Linked DNA regions of Homo sapiens. The protein of the gene in region 2 interacts with the protein of the main gene of each other region in a pairwise test. Each region holds a gene or a part of one and is shown on either strand. Other genes may lie near its edges.

Region 1 (7,031 bases), on a different chromosome or scaffold from region 2:
TCATCATCATCATCATGTCCACCGCCTCATCACCATGACCATTCCCTCATGACCAGGACCATCATCATCATCATGATAATCATCATCATCATGTTCACCGCCTCATCACCATGACCATTCCCTCATGATCATCAGCATTATTTCACCATCTTCATCACCACCACCATCTTACCATTATCACCATGACCCTCACCACAATGATCATCACCCTATCATGATCTCCGTCGCCATCACCATCACGATCATCACCATCATCACCACCCTCATAATCATCTCCATCATCAACACCGCCTGGCATGGCACCTGGGCTATTCACATATCAAAATCAGTCTTGTGATTCTGTCTTTCTAGGATTCCCCAAAAATACCATTCACACCTTGTTTTTAATTAGATACTTTGGGGGTTTTTTTTGTTTTTGTTTTTTTTGGTTGGGGGTGTCTTAAGCCCCTCAAATCCTGGAGAGGGTCACACGTCTCCCCTCAGGGGTCTTTCTTCTTCCTCTGGGGTAGTGGTGGTTGGTGCAGGCATGCTGGTGGTCCAGGCCATCTCTGCCAGTCTCTTCACAGCCTCACCCAGCTGCCCCAGACCCCGGGCAGCTTCTACCAGCTGCGTCAGCCCCAGCAGCAGGGCTTGGCGCTCCTGCCGCTCCTGTTCCACGACCTGGGTCAGTCTCTGCAGCTGACCACCCACATCCCTCACAGCAGCCACCAGCTCCACCAGGGCAGGTGGCTCACAAGCCATGACCCTTACAGGTGGTGTTGGGGCCACACATGGACCATGGGGGCCTGGGCTCTGACCAGGAGTTGGCCCTAGGGTGAGGGGGTCAAGGGGAGGATGATCCAAGGGGTGGGCTGTGGGGGAAAGGAGGGGGTCAGGGGACACAGTAAGGTCAGAGGCTGAGTGTGGGGTATGGGTGGGTGGAGGGGTTAGGTTGGGGCTCTGGCTTCTGGGTGGCTTGAAGTCCTCAGTGGACAGTGGGTCCATGCTTGTGGCTGTGGAGGACCTGGAGGGGCTGGACTCCAAGGCTGGAGAGGGCTCTAAGGTGGGTATCTGGGATGTGGAGGTGTGAGGGGCAGGTGCTGTGAAGGTCAACTGGGGGTGCAGACTGGGCTTGACTGTTGGTGCTAGAGTGGGAGAGGAGAGTTCTGTCCCCAAGGAGGTTGGAAGGGACACAGTAGTGATGACAGGGGTTGAGGAAGGGTCAGGAGTTGTGGGGTGAGGGGTCGTGGTGGGATCAGGAGTAGTGGTGGGGTAAGGGGTCGTGGTGGGGTCAGGAGTCATGGTGGGGTGAGGGGTTGTGGTGGGGTGAGGGGTTGTGGTGGGGTGAGGAGTCGTGGTGGGGTGAGGGGTCGTGGTGGGATGAGGCATCGTGGTGGGCTGCATGGTGGTGAAGGGTTGAGGGGTTGTGGTGGGGTCAGGAATCATGGTGGAGTGAGTGATGGTGGTGGGATGAGGGGTCGTGGTGGGGTGAGGGGTTGTGGAGTGAGGGGTTGTGGTGGGCTGCATGGTGGTGAAGGGTTGAGGGGTTGTGGTGGGGTCAGGAATCATGGTGGAGTGAGTGATGGTGGTGAAGGGTTGAGGGGTTGTGGTGGGGTCAGGAATCATGGTGGAGTGAGTGATGGTGGTGGGGTGAGGGGTCGTGGTGGGGTGAGGGGTGGTAGGGAAGTGAGGGGTCACAGTAGGGTTAAGGGTTGTGATGGGGTCAGGGGCCATGGTGGGATCAGGGGTAGTAGTGGGGTGAGGGCTTGGGGAGGGGTCTGGGGATCTAGAATATTCTGAGACTGTACTGGAGTATGGAGTTGTGTCCAAATCTGGGGTTGTGTCAGATTCTGGGACCTGCTCTGAGGTAGGGGAAAGGCTGGTCACCTCCGACGGTGTAGAAGGGTCAGAGGTCAGCTCTTTGGGCAAGGTGGGTAAGGGCGTGGGTGAGGGCTCCGGGGTCAACGCGGGAACCACACTGGAGTCAGGGGTGGACAAAGCAAAGTCAGGGCTTGTCAAGATGAGGTCGGGGTTCGTCCGGGAGGCCGGGTCTGGGGTGGGTGGTGAAGTGTCCGGAGCGTCAGAGGTCGCCTCGGACGTCAAGGCTGAGTGGGGAGTGAGCTCTCGACTGGAGTCAGAGGTCAGCGCTGGGCCTGGGGGTCCCGGAGAGGCGGAGGGACCTGGGGACGGGGTTGGGGGCGCTGTCCTGGTCGCAGCGGGCCGCGGTGGCCGGCGCTCGGGCCACGGTTTCCTCGGGGAACCTGGAGGAGGAGGAAAGACAGACGGACGGTCTGAGGTCAACCGGCTCCGCCCACCACGCGTCCCGCCCCGCCCCTCGAGGAGCCGACCAATGGAAAGGCACAGAGCCTCGAGACGTCATGGGTCACCGGCAGACTTCACCCGGCCCTAGGGCCCCTCCTCCCTACGTCCTCCGATGGCTCCAGGCGCCACCTGGCGTCCTCCACTGCGGGAGGATGCGGGGATGCTCCGGACTCGGGGATGCCGAGGGGCACGCGGGTTGCGGGAGCGGGTGCAGGAGGGTGAGGTGAGGGAGGGATGCGTGGGGTGCTGGGGTGCGGGAGGGGGCGGGAGTGCTCAGAAGCGTGCAGCATACGGGAGGATTCTGAGCCAGCGGGGGACTGGGAGATGTGCGGAGCCAGGGGAGGCAGGGAGACCAAAGAGGGCTCCGAAGGGTAATGTTAGTAATCAAAATAAATACTTTTATGGATTTTTTTATTTTTTAAGATAAAGTCTGGCTGTGTCGCCCAAGCTGGAGTGCGGTGGCAAGATCATAGCTCACTGTAACCTCGAACTCCTGGGCTCAAGCGTTTTTATGCAATATTTTTAAACAATCAAAATTAATCCAAAAGATCCACAGTTAACCAAAGTTAACATTTTAACCAAAGACGGGATCCAACAGGGCCAGGATTAGGGGGAGCCCAGCGAGGCGGATAGGATCCTGTCTTCAGTGACTTTTTTTTTTTTTTTGAGATGGAGTCTCGCTCTGTCGCCCAGGCTGGAGTGCAGTGGCGTGATCTCGGCTCACTGCAAGCTCCGCCTCCCGGGTTCACACCATTCTCCTGCCTCAGCCTCCCGAGTAGCTGGGACTACAGGCGCCCGCCACCACACCAGGCTAATTTTTTGTATTTTTAGTAGAGACGGGGTTTCACCGTGTTGGCCAGGATGGTCTCGATCTCCTGACCTCGTGATCCGCCCGCCTGGGCCTCCCAAAGTGCTGGGATTACAGGCATGAGCCATCGCGCCCGGCCTTCAGTTACATTTTTGATACCGAGTTCATCATGGGTTTTTTTTTTTTTGGCATTAATTTTCATTTTAAAAAATACTGTATTATGATATTATGTATCTTGATTTTGGCGTTTTGGGCACCCCCTTAAATTTTGGGCCTGAGTAGCAGGAGGAGCCTGACCCTCTTCTGGGGCTGTCTTCCAAGTGAGTGCCAATTTTATCCCCATTTTACAGAAGGGGGAAATTAGGGCAAGAGGGCAGGTGACTCGCCCAAGGTCACACAGACATAGTTTGCAAGTTGCAGGGCTAAGACTTGAACCCAAGTTGTTTGCACATAGAGTCTAGGCAATGAAATCTCACATCTGCAGTGATGGGAATGCGCTGTGATCTACCGTGCCAATACAGTAGCCACTGGCCACATGTGGCTACCAAGCCCTTGAAATGCGGCCAGTGTGAATGAGAAACTAAATGTTTCATTTTCTTTTATTTTATTTTATTTTTTTTTTTGAGACGGAGTCTCACTCTGTCGCCCAGGTTAGAGTGCAGTGGCACGATCTCGCCTCACTGCCAGCTTTGCCTCCCAGGTTCATGCCATTCTCCTGCCTCAGCCTCCCGAGAAGCTGGGACTACAGGCGCTCGCCACCATGTCCTGCTAATTTTTTGTATTTTTAGTAGAGATGGGGTTTCACTGTGTTAGCCAGGACGGTCGCGATCTCCTGACCTCGTGATCCGCCCGCTTCGGCCTCCCAAAGTGCTGGGATTACAGGCGTGGCCACTGCGCCCGGCAAATGTTTCATTTTCAAAGTGTTAATTCATTTAACTTTTTTTTTTTTTTTTTTTTTGAGACGGAGTTTCACTCCTGTTGCCCAGGCTGGAGTGCAGTGGCGCGATCTTGGCTCGCTGCAATCTCCGCCTCCTGGGTTCAAGTGATTCTCCTGTGTCCACTTCCTGAGTAGCTGGGATGACAGGCATGTGCCACCATGCCCAGCTAATTTTTTTGTATTTTTAGTAGAGATGGGGTTTCACTATGTTGTTCAGGCTAGTCTTGAACCCCCGACCTCAGGTGATCTGCCTGCCTCAGCCTCCCAAAGTGCTGGAATTTCAGGCGTGAGCCACCATGCCCGGTGCTCTTAGCTACCGTATTGAACCACACAGATCTACAGATTTCCACTTGTTCCTGCAGGGCAGGGTCTTTCAGGCGCATCCCTTCCCCACCTTGTCCTTTGTTTGCAGGATTGGAGAAGCGGTTAAGTAAAGGGCTTGTGCTCAAGGCAGGCTGTCCGAGTTTAAACCCCAGCTGCATGGCTTCCTAGCGGGGTGACCACGGCCAAGTTACTTCACTGCTTGAATCTCAGTTTCTTCCTCAGCTATAGACTGTGGATGATCCGCGTATCTCCCTTGCAGAGCTGTCAAAAGGACTCAGGGAGACCATGGTTGTGCAAAGCACTTAGTGTAATGTCTAGCATGGAATAAGCACTCTAATAATTATTGATGTCAGAGTCACTGATGTCTGTGCCTCAATTTCACTCATCTGAGAAATGGGCAAAATTATAGATCTACGTCATGGAGCTCATGCAGATTTCCTTCCCTCCTTTCTCCCTTCCTCCCTTCTTCTCTCTCTCTCTTTTTTTTTTTTTTTTAACAGAGTCTTTCTCTGTTGCCCAGGCTGGAGTGCAGTGGTGCGATCTCAGCTCACTGCAACCTCCGCCTCCCAGGTTCAAGCAGTTCTCCTGCCTCAGCCTCCCGAGTAGCTGGGATTACAGGCGCCTGCCACCACACCTATTATTATTATTATTATTATTATTATTATTATTATTATTATTATTATTATTTTGAGACAGAGTCTCACTCTGTTGCCCAGGCTGGAGTGCAGTGGCGCAATCTCGGCTCACTGCAAGCTCTGCCTCCTGGGTTCACGCCATTCTCCTGCCTCAGCCTCCCGAGTAGCTGGGACCATAGGTGCCTACCACCACGCCTGGCTAATTTTTTGTATTGTTAGTAAAGACAGGGTTTCACCGTGTTAGCCAGGATGGTCTCGATCTCCTGACCTCGTGATCTGCCCGCCTCAGCCTCCCAAAGTGCTGGGATTACAGGCGTCAGCCATTGCAGCCAGCCTAATCATGCTTAACTTTACTAAATACTGCTGGATTGTCTTTATCAAACAGCTCTGTCCAGTGGGGTTGCCTGTCTTCCCACATCCTCACTCACACTGGATAATACCCACCTTTCTCATTCTCCTCTGTACTTGCCATTGTTTTAATTTGTATTTTCTGGTTCCTGATGAGCGTGGGCATTTCTAAATACACTCAGCCATTTGGGCTTCCTTTTCTGGGAATCACCTGTTTTCCTCTTTCTCATCTAGGGTTTCCTATCATTTTCCTATTTGTCACAGTGACTTATGCCATCTAGGCTGGGGTTTCTCAACCTCGGTACTATTGTAATTTAGGGCTGGGTGGTTCTTTGTTATGGGGAATGTCGTGTGCATTGTGAATGTTTATCACCACCCCGGCCTCTACCGATCAGGTGCCAATGGGTAGCCTCTCACTTCCTGCCATGACAATCCAAAATATCTTCAGATATTGCCAAATTCCCCTTGGGGGCAAAATCGACCCTAGTTGATGACCAGCGGTCTAGATAATAACCTCTTGGTTCTGTTTTTGTCTTTATTTGAGACAAGGTCTCGCTCTGGCACCCAGGCTGGAATACAGTGGCACAACCACAGCCTCGAGCACCCAGGCTCAAGGGATCCTCCTGCCTCAGCCTCCCAAGCAGCTGGGACCACACGTGCGTACCACCACACCCAGCTAATGTTCATATCTTGGGGGGCTCACCATGTTGCCCAGGCTGCTCTCAAACTCCCGAGCTTAAGCAATCCTCCCAACTCGGCCTCCCAAAGTGCTGTGATTACAGGCATGAGCCACCATGCTCAGCCGATAACCCTTTGTTTTAGGGTATATTTCTGCTGAGTCTTTCTGGGGTAAGGGTTCCAGTGGGGAGTCTGGAATCTGTCTCTTTACCCCAGGACAAATACCGTCCCAGTCTCCTCACCCCAGCCACGTGTCTCACCTGTGTCTCCATGGACTCTCAGAGTTGGAGGACTGCCTGGGCTCCTGGTGGTGCCAGCCCCAAGAGTTGGTCCTAGTTTGCCTGCGGTAGGGGTCCCCTCAGCCAGGCCCCTTCCTGATGGTGTGTCCCACGTCCAGGGAAGCTTGTAACCATCTTTGCTGCCTAGAGAGATATGGGGAAGAGGATTGAGTCTTCCAACTTCCCTTTGAGTTTGACTCCCCGTCTCTCTCCTCCTGGGCCAGCCCCAGTTCAGGCATCATCCCGTCTCAACTGCACCGCCACTGCAGCCCTACCTGACCTCGTGGAGACCTTCTCCATTCAGCTGGGATGTTTTTGGCTACCAACGACGGAAACGGTCACTAAACTAGCACATAAAATGAAGGGCATTTGGGCCTGGCGCCGTGGCTCAAGCTTGTAATCCCAGCACTTTGGGAGGCTGAGGCAGGCAGATCACTTGAGGTCAGGAGCTCAAGACCAGCCTGGCCAACATGGAGAAACCCCATCTGCACTAAATATACAAAAAATTAGCTGGGTATGGTGGCACACGCCTATAATCCCAGCTACTCGGGAGGCTGAGACAGGAGAATCACTTGAACCTGGGAGACAGAGGTTGCAGTGAGCCAAGACTGTGCCACTGCACTCCTGCCTGGGTGACAGAGCGAGACACCGCCTCAAAAAAAAAAAAAAAGGAATTTATTATTTTAATTCCTCAAGGCTCCTGCCCTAGCGGGGGAAAAACC
Region 2 (7,031 bases):
TTTCTTTTTAGTTCTTTTTTTCCCCATTTGGCTTTGTAATTTAGAAGAGTAAGGTGTAGAGAACAATTTAACTTTTTTCTTACATAATCGTTTCTGTCTGTGCCATATATTGAATAATGTACCCTTTTGTCATTGGTTTGATATTTTTATCATATGCCAAATATTTTGCTGTTGTTTGACATTTTAATTAATATTTGTTTCCTAGGCTTTCTCATCTCTTCTGGTGATTTATTTGTCTATGATACTTCATTGATTTCAAGCCATTTATTTTCCACATTTTAACATATTTAAATTTGTAATGCATCTTAAAATCTGCTGTTGGGGCTGGTGCAGTGGCTCATACCTGTAATCCCAGCGCTGTGGGAGGATTACTTGAGCCCAGGAGTTTGAGACCAGCCTGGGCAACATAGTGAAACCTCGTCTCTTAAAAAAAAAAAAAAAAAAAATTTAAGTCAGCTGTTGCCTTAACGGAAGTTGAGTTCTTTCTGAGAAGCTGTGCATTCTCTTCTGCTGGTCACTGGGGGAGGGGCTTTACCAACTTGCCTCTGCTTAAGCTAATTTCTCTGCTTGGGATTTTTTAGGATGATGCTGGTAGTGTGATTTCAGCCCCCAAAATTTGCAGGGATGGGGTTGTCAGTTCAGATATTGGAGTTTTTGTTCCCTCTTTCCATTGTCAAGGAAGAGGTGCGCAGGCCTCTTTGCCATCCCTTCTGCATGTAGTTGCTTGCTTTTATCCCTCATTGAGACTATAGATGTTTAGTCCCCCACTTTTTGTGAGGGGTTCTCCTTTGAGACTCCCTTTCTGGGCATCTTTTTATGGTACATAACAGTGAAGTGTCACAATCAACAGTGTCTTAGATTTGGTGAAATATGGTGTTTTAATAATTGTAATTTTTTACATAATATCTGGCAGTAGAAGTTCTCAGTATACCATAGTCTTTGCAGTTATCCCGAATGAAGTTCGAAATAATTTAAGTTCCCCTGACGCTCTCTCCCCTAACAAAACAAAGCAAGACAAACAAAACCAAAAGAATAGTAATTCTAGGATTTTGCCATCACCTTATATGGAAAACTCAGAACCTTCTATTTCACATATGATTCGTTCACTATAATTGTTTTATTTACTTCTTCTTACACTTGGCTGTAAAATTTAGGCAAGAATTTAAGTTTCTAATACTATACTAATGTCATAAGATAATCCATTTAAAATGTTAACAATTATTCTATACATAGTTCATTCAAGCTTAGATCAGTTTTGCTGAATGGTTGTTTTATGTTCATGTCCTTTTAGACCTTTTTAGGATTGTTCTTTGAAAAGCCTCAAATTGGCCAGGTGTGGTGGCTTACACCTGTAATCTTAGCACTTTGGAGGCTGAGGCAGGCAGATCGCTTGAGCTCAGGAGTTCGAGACCAGCTTAGCAACATAGACAAGACATTACTTGTCTCTACTAAAAGTAAAAAAAAAAAAATCACTGGGGCATGATGGTGTGCACCTGTAGTCCCAGCAACTTGGGAGGCTGAGGTGGGAGGATTGCTGGAGTTCGGGAGATTGAGGCTGCAGTGAGCTGTGATCGTACCACTGCACTCCAGCCTGGATTATAGAGTGAGACCCTGTCTCAAAAATAAATAATTAAATAAAAAATAAAAAAGCCTCAAATTAACATGGCAGATAACTAACTTTATTTTTTATTAATATTTTAGCTGGTCACGGTGGCTCATGCCTGTAATCCCAGCACTTTGGGAGGCCAAGGCGGATCACAAGGTCAGGAGTTCGAGACCAGCCTGGCCAAATAGTGAAATCTTGTCTCTACTAAAAATACAAAAATTAGCCGGGCGTGGTAGCACACACCTGTAGTCCCAGCTACTTGGGAGGCTGAGGCAGGAGAATCTTTTGAACCTGGGAGACTGAGGGTGCAGTGAGCTGAGATCGTGCCATTGCACTCCTGCCTGGGCGACAGGGCGAGACTCTGTCTCAAAGAAAAAAAATAAAATAAAATATTTTAATTTTTTGAGAAGGGGTCTCACTCTGTCACCCAGCTTGTGTGAGTGCAGTGGCGCAATCTTGGCTCACTGCAACCTCTGACTCCCAGGCTCAAGCGATCCTCCTAACTTAGCATCTCGAGAGGCTGGGACCACAGGTGTGCACCACCACGTCTGGCTAATTTTTTTATTTTTTGGTAGAGACAGGGTTCCCCCAAGTTGCCCAGGCTGGTCTCGAACTTCTGAGCTGAGATGATCCACTTGCCTCGGCCTCCCACAGTGCTGGGATTACAGGCGTGAGCCACAACACTTGGCCATAACTAACTTTAAATTGTGTCTTTTACTCTCTGTACTGGCTTTGCTATGAAGAAATCATGCTGGTTAATCTTACTGAGTGTTTCCTGGGCATTCTTGTCCCTTTGGAAGGCCTGAGGACTTGCTTACAGGCTGTGCTCTTTGGAGGCGGTTTGCAGTGTTTGTCAGTAAAGTTGAGCACTGGATTGTCCATTTTTTTTTTTTTTTTTTGAGATGGAGTCTCACCCTGTCCCCAAGGCTGGAGTGCAGTGGCGTCATCTTGGCTCACTGCAAGCTCCGCCTCCCGTGTTCACACCATTCTCCTGCCTCAGCCTCCAGAGTAGCTGGGATTACAGGCACCCGCCACCATGCCCAGCTAATTTTTTGTATTTTCAGTAGAGATGGGGTTTCACCATGTTAGTCAGGATGGTCTCGATTTCCTGACCTTGTGATCTGCCCACCTCGGCCTCCCAAAGTGCTGAGATTACAGGCGTGAGACACCGTGCCTGGCCGATTGTCTGTTCTTTTACTTCAGAAAAGACAACGATGCATGGTATTTGACTGTAAATTTGTAAAGTTCACTGAGGTTTTTTTTTTTTTTCCTTTTTAAGACTTTCTTGTCTGCACAGAAAGTCCCAGTACAACTTCCATTGCTGAGAAAATCCTCAGAGGACTTTCCCACTTCGCTCCTGTGATGGATGACAGAAGAGTGATTCATTAACAATTGCTCAGCCACAATTCTCGGATATAGGGATTCAAAAGACAGGACACAGAACTAACACAGTGAAAAAAATCAGTACCACATTTGGACAGTATAGGTGAGAAAACATAATTATAAAAATGATGCCATGAAAAATTCCACAGATCAGTTTAGTTGTATAGTTGTCAAAGTTATATGTGATATCAATGAAGAAATATTTGTAGCATGTAAACGGTTATTTCTGTTTCTTAAAAAGTATTGTTAGTGGGCTATTAAACTTGGATTTTTCTTTTTATTAATGCAGTATGTTCTTTTTATTCAAGTATGAACTTGTTGAGAAACTATAGTAATATGATTTTTAAGAGATTTATGTTCTACTTAAAATGTGAATTGTACTTCTGAGCTGCCTTAATGCAAGGTCATTTATATTTGTTAAGAGGAAATAATCAAGATCACTCATATCCCAACTGAATCTGAGGTTTTATAAATCCCTCAAACGATTGCTGAGAGCCTGATTGTGGAAAGAAGTGAGATGCACCTTATTTTCAAGAAGTCCTGGGAAGCGCTCTCCTAGCACGTCCATTTCCAGGAGGAGAAGCAAGCAGATGAGAGGTTTTCCATTTTGTCATCCAAGGTAGCTGTGCACTTGCCTTGTTGCTGAAGTTCCAATAATGTGAAAACCAAAGTAGAGGTTTTTTTCTTCTTCTTTTTGTTTTCTATTAATTTCACTTATACCAAAGTGTTTGAAAGTATGAAATGTGTTGCTTCTGAGTTATATAAGGCTACTTCATGACAAGACTGCTTTGTAATATTTCACTTTGTTTTACTACAAATTCAGATCACTTTGTTTTACTATAAATTCAGATTATCCAAATATTTTCCTAATACTATGTGGGAATGCTGATTTTCTTTTGTTACGTAGTGGAAACATTTTGCATTGTTTACATAGTTCTCATGGAACATGGAAATTTTTGAAAGTGATATATGATACACATTTTTTGTGTATGTATTCTAATTAGTGTGAATAAAGCAGTAACATTAATGCATTTTTTAAGCAGCAAACTTATGTATTTCTCTTGTCTTCCTTAAAAGTGTCCCCATGAACTCAGTGTTTATTCCCTTTTCATTTTGAGTACCTGCTTATATGGTCAGTATGTAACGTTAGCATTGGCTCCTAATGGTAGAATTAGAACAGCAAGATTGTAGAGCTGTAATTGACTCCAGACAACATAGATTTCAGCCACCTCATTCTACAGCTGAGGCCAGGACAATAAATGCCTTTCCCAGACTGGGTAGTGGCAGATCTGGGATGGAATATGGTTTTCTTGATTCCCTTTCAGCCTTCATTTCTCTCTCTCAGGACTACTACTTTTTAATTACTTTTCACTTAATTTCCCAATACTGATGAAATAAAGAAAAATGAGGGTTATTTATATACATTTCAATAAAATCCAATTTGATTTTTCAACTTACATCTGATTTTTGTTTGTGTCATTCAGCCTGTCTTCTGAGTAATGGGCAGAGAAGGACCAGGGTTCGTAGAAGAAGCATGTGGCAGCTGAGTGGCAGCAGTCTTGCCCTTTCATTTTAATACTTGAGTACACAGAAAATAGAATTTTTGAGTGACTCTGCCTGTGGATATATATACTCATACATACATATATATATATACACACACACATATGTATGTATGTATGTATTACTATTCAGTCTCTTAAAAACCAAAAAACAGTAGATCCCCTGAGGGTAGAGTCTTTATGTATGAACATATTGTTCACTGTTGTAACCACCTTGCAGGATTTCAGTCTATAAACTAGGTGAGAATCCAGCTGCTGAGTGAAGCTTGATCTCTGCCTCTTCCTCAGGAGCAGCTCATCCCCTGACAACCTCCCCTCCCAGCCCCTAATCTGGTTTAATGCCCTCCTTTTCCCCAGATAAAGAAAGTCATGTCTGTAGTTATTCCAAAAGTGTTTCATGTGTAGAGTTTGGCACAAAAAGTAAAAAGCGCCAGCATCTGAAGTCAAAGGTGAAAGAGTCATCACAGTACTGATGAAGACACCCAGGCCTCGTCAGCTATGTTAACGTGCTGTATGACAAGAGGAACCTGCTTTCTAAGTCTGCTGGACACGCGTGCTTCTTGAATCCAACCAGACAAGCATGTTTTCTCAAAACCACAGTATAAGACAAGGAAACTGCACAGATTCGAGTGATTTTTGAGGTAAGTATGTTATTGGAAAGGTGTGATCTATATAGAACCCTGTACATGAAAAGGAGGAGATGCCGCTATCTTGGCAGGGATGATCATGTATTTGAAATAGTAACTCACAGCATTTGGTCTCATGATAAGAGTACTGAAGATTATCCCAGAAAACCTAGGATGATTGGTATTTATAGTACCATTGTTTCAGGTTTTTATGACTTGAGGCATCTAACTATCTTAATGCTGTACTTTAGTGTTTACCAAGCAGCTTTCTGGTGGAAACTTGAACTGCAGACACTGAGTGTTTTGGTTTTCCTCCAAGTTATAGTTCTCATTGTAACTTAATAAGTTGGCATTCCAGCTTAGTTTGAGTCAGTTTCCCAGGGCTGGGTCCTCAGAGGAGAGTGGATAGAATTCAGTTCCTCTATGAGCTGGGGTGCTGACATTGTGTTCCTGCTGTTGACTGTCCCTGCGGTGCACGGGACAGACTGTCAGCTAACCTGTCTTCATGACATTTCTATAATACTCCTCAGGGGGTTAACCCCATCTCTACTAAAAATAAAAAAAATTAGCTGGGCATGGTGGCATGTGCCTGTAGTCCCAGCTACAGGAGGCTGAGGCAGGAGAATTGCTTGAACCCAGGAGGTGGAGGTTGCAGTGAGTTGGGATCTCGCCACTGCACTCTAGCCTGAGTGACAGAGCGAGACTCTGTCTCAAAAAAAAATAAATGAATAAAAAATAAAACAGCAACTCTTGCAGATTTCCCGAATGTATTGGTCCCAGAGAACACTGAAAATAATGTCATGTTGTTAACACCAGTGGGAGTTTGGGAAATAATTCCAGCTCTTTAATACTTCTTTCAGCTTCAGATTAAGTGAAATGAGTTTCACATATTTCAATATATGAAATTTTATGATGACACATAAAACAGGCCAGGGGTTATTGAGGACACATCTGTGAGATAGTGGGCAATGCTACATATTCGTTAGTGGATGTGCTGCAGTTCAGGTTCATGGACAGGTGGGACTGGTGTGGTTGGGATAACCCACCATGTTTGTCTTTCATTTCTTGTATAAAGAGTGGTTTTTAAAAGACCTTACTATGGAATTTTCACAAATACTCAAAAGTATGGAGAATGGTACAGTGAATCCCCATGTGCCCTTTTCCCAGCTTCAGGGGTGGTGTCAGTGATAATGATTTGGCTCTGTGTCCCCACCCAAATCTCATCTTGAATTGTAATCCCCACGTGTCAGGGGAGGGACCTGGTGGGAGGTGATTGGATCATGGGGGCTGTTTCCCCATGCTGTTCTTGTGATAGTGAGGGAGTTCTCACAAGATCTGATGGTTTTAAAAGTGGCAGTTTTCCCTGCACTCTCTCCTGCCACCTTGTGAAGAAGGTGCCTGCTTCCCCTTTGCCTTTCGTCACAATTGTAAGTTCCCCGAGGTTCGTCATGATTGTAAGTTTCCTGAGGTCTCCCCAACCATGCAGAACTGTGAGTCACTTGAACCCCTTTTGTTTATAAATTGCCCAGTCTCAGGTAGTACCTTGATAGCAGTGTGAAAATGGACTAATACAGTCAGGGACCTAAAAGACAGGTAAAGAGATGTGGCCAGGTGAAGACGGAAAAAGGACAGTGCATTCCAGACCTGTGGAAAGACGCGAGGTTGGAAAGAACATCACAACTGGGGCGACTGAAGAAATTATGTTGTTAAGCACGAAATGCAGAGAGAGAGCTATGTGAATGTGTTGAGTGTGATTTTCATTAAACAATTTTTAAAGAAAGCATTTCTAGTGGTGCTTTTATTTTTGCAGCCGCTTAATAGCATTCACTCTTGTTGAAAGGAGCACAGTTTGGA

The links. The genes of interacting proteins can lie anywhere in the genome.
Region 1: the proteins of SEC23IP (region 2) and SSC5D interact in binary tests that used the Homo sapiens proteins (3 or more experiments, as listed by UniProt).

The regions. Positions count from the first base shown.
Region 1 is NC_000019.10:55,512,433-55,519,463, reverse strand, and holds the end of SSC5D (soluble scavenger receptor cysteine-rich domain-containing protein SSC5D isoform 1 precursor), read right to left. Parts: intron 6,454-7,031; coding exon 6,292-6,453; intron 2,241-6,291; coding exon 466-2,240; 3' UTR 365-465; downstream 1-364.
Region 2 is NC_000010.11:119,937,701-119,944,731, forward strand, and holds the end of SEC23IP (SEC23-interacting protein), read left to right. Parts: intron 1-2,885; 3' UTR 2,886-6,957; downstream 6,958-7,031. UniProt on the Homo sapiens protein: Plays a role in the organization of endoplasmic reticulum exit sites. Specifically binds to phosphatidylinositol 3-phosphate (PI(3)P), phosphatidylinositol 4-phosphate (PI(4)P) and phosphatidylinositol 5-phosphate (PI(5)P).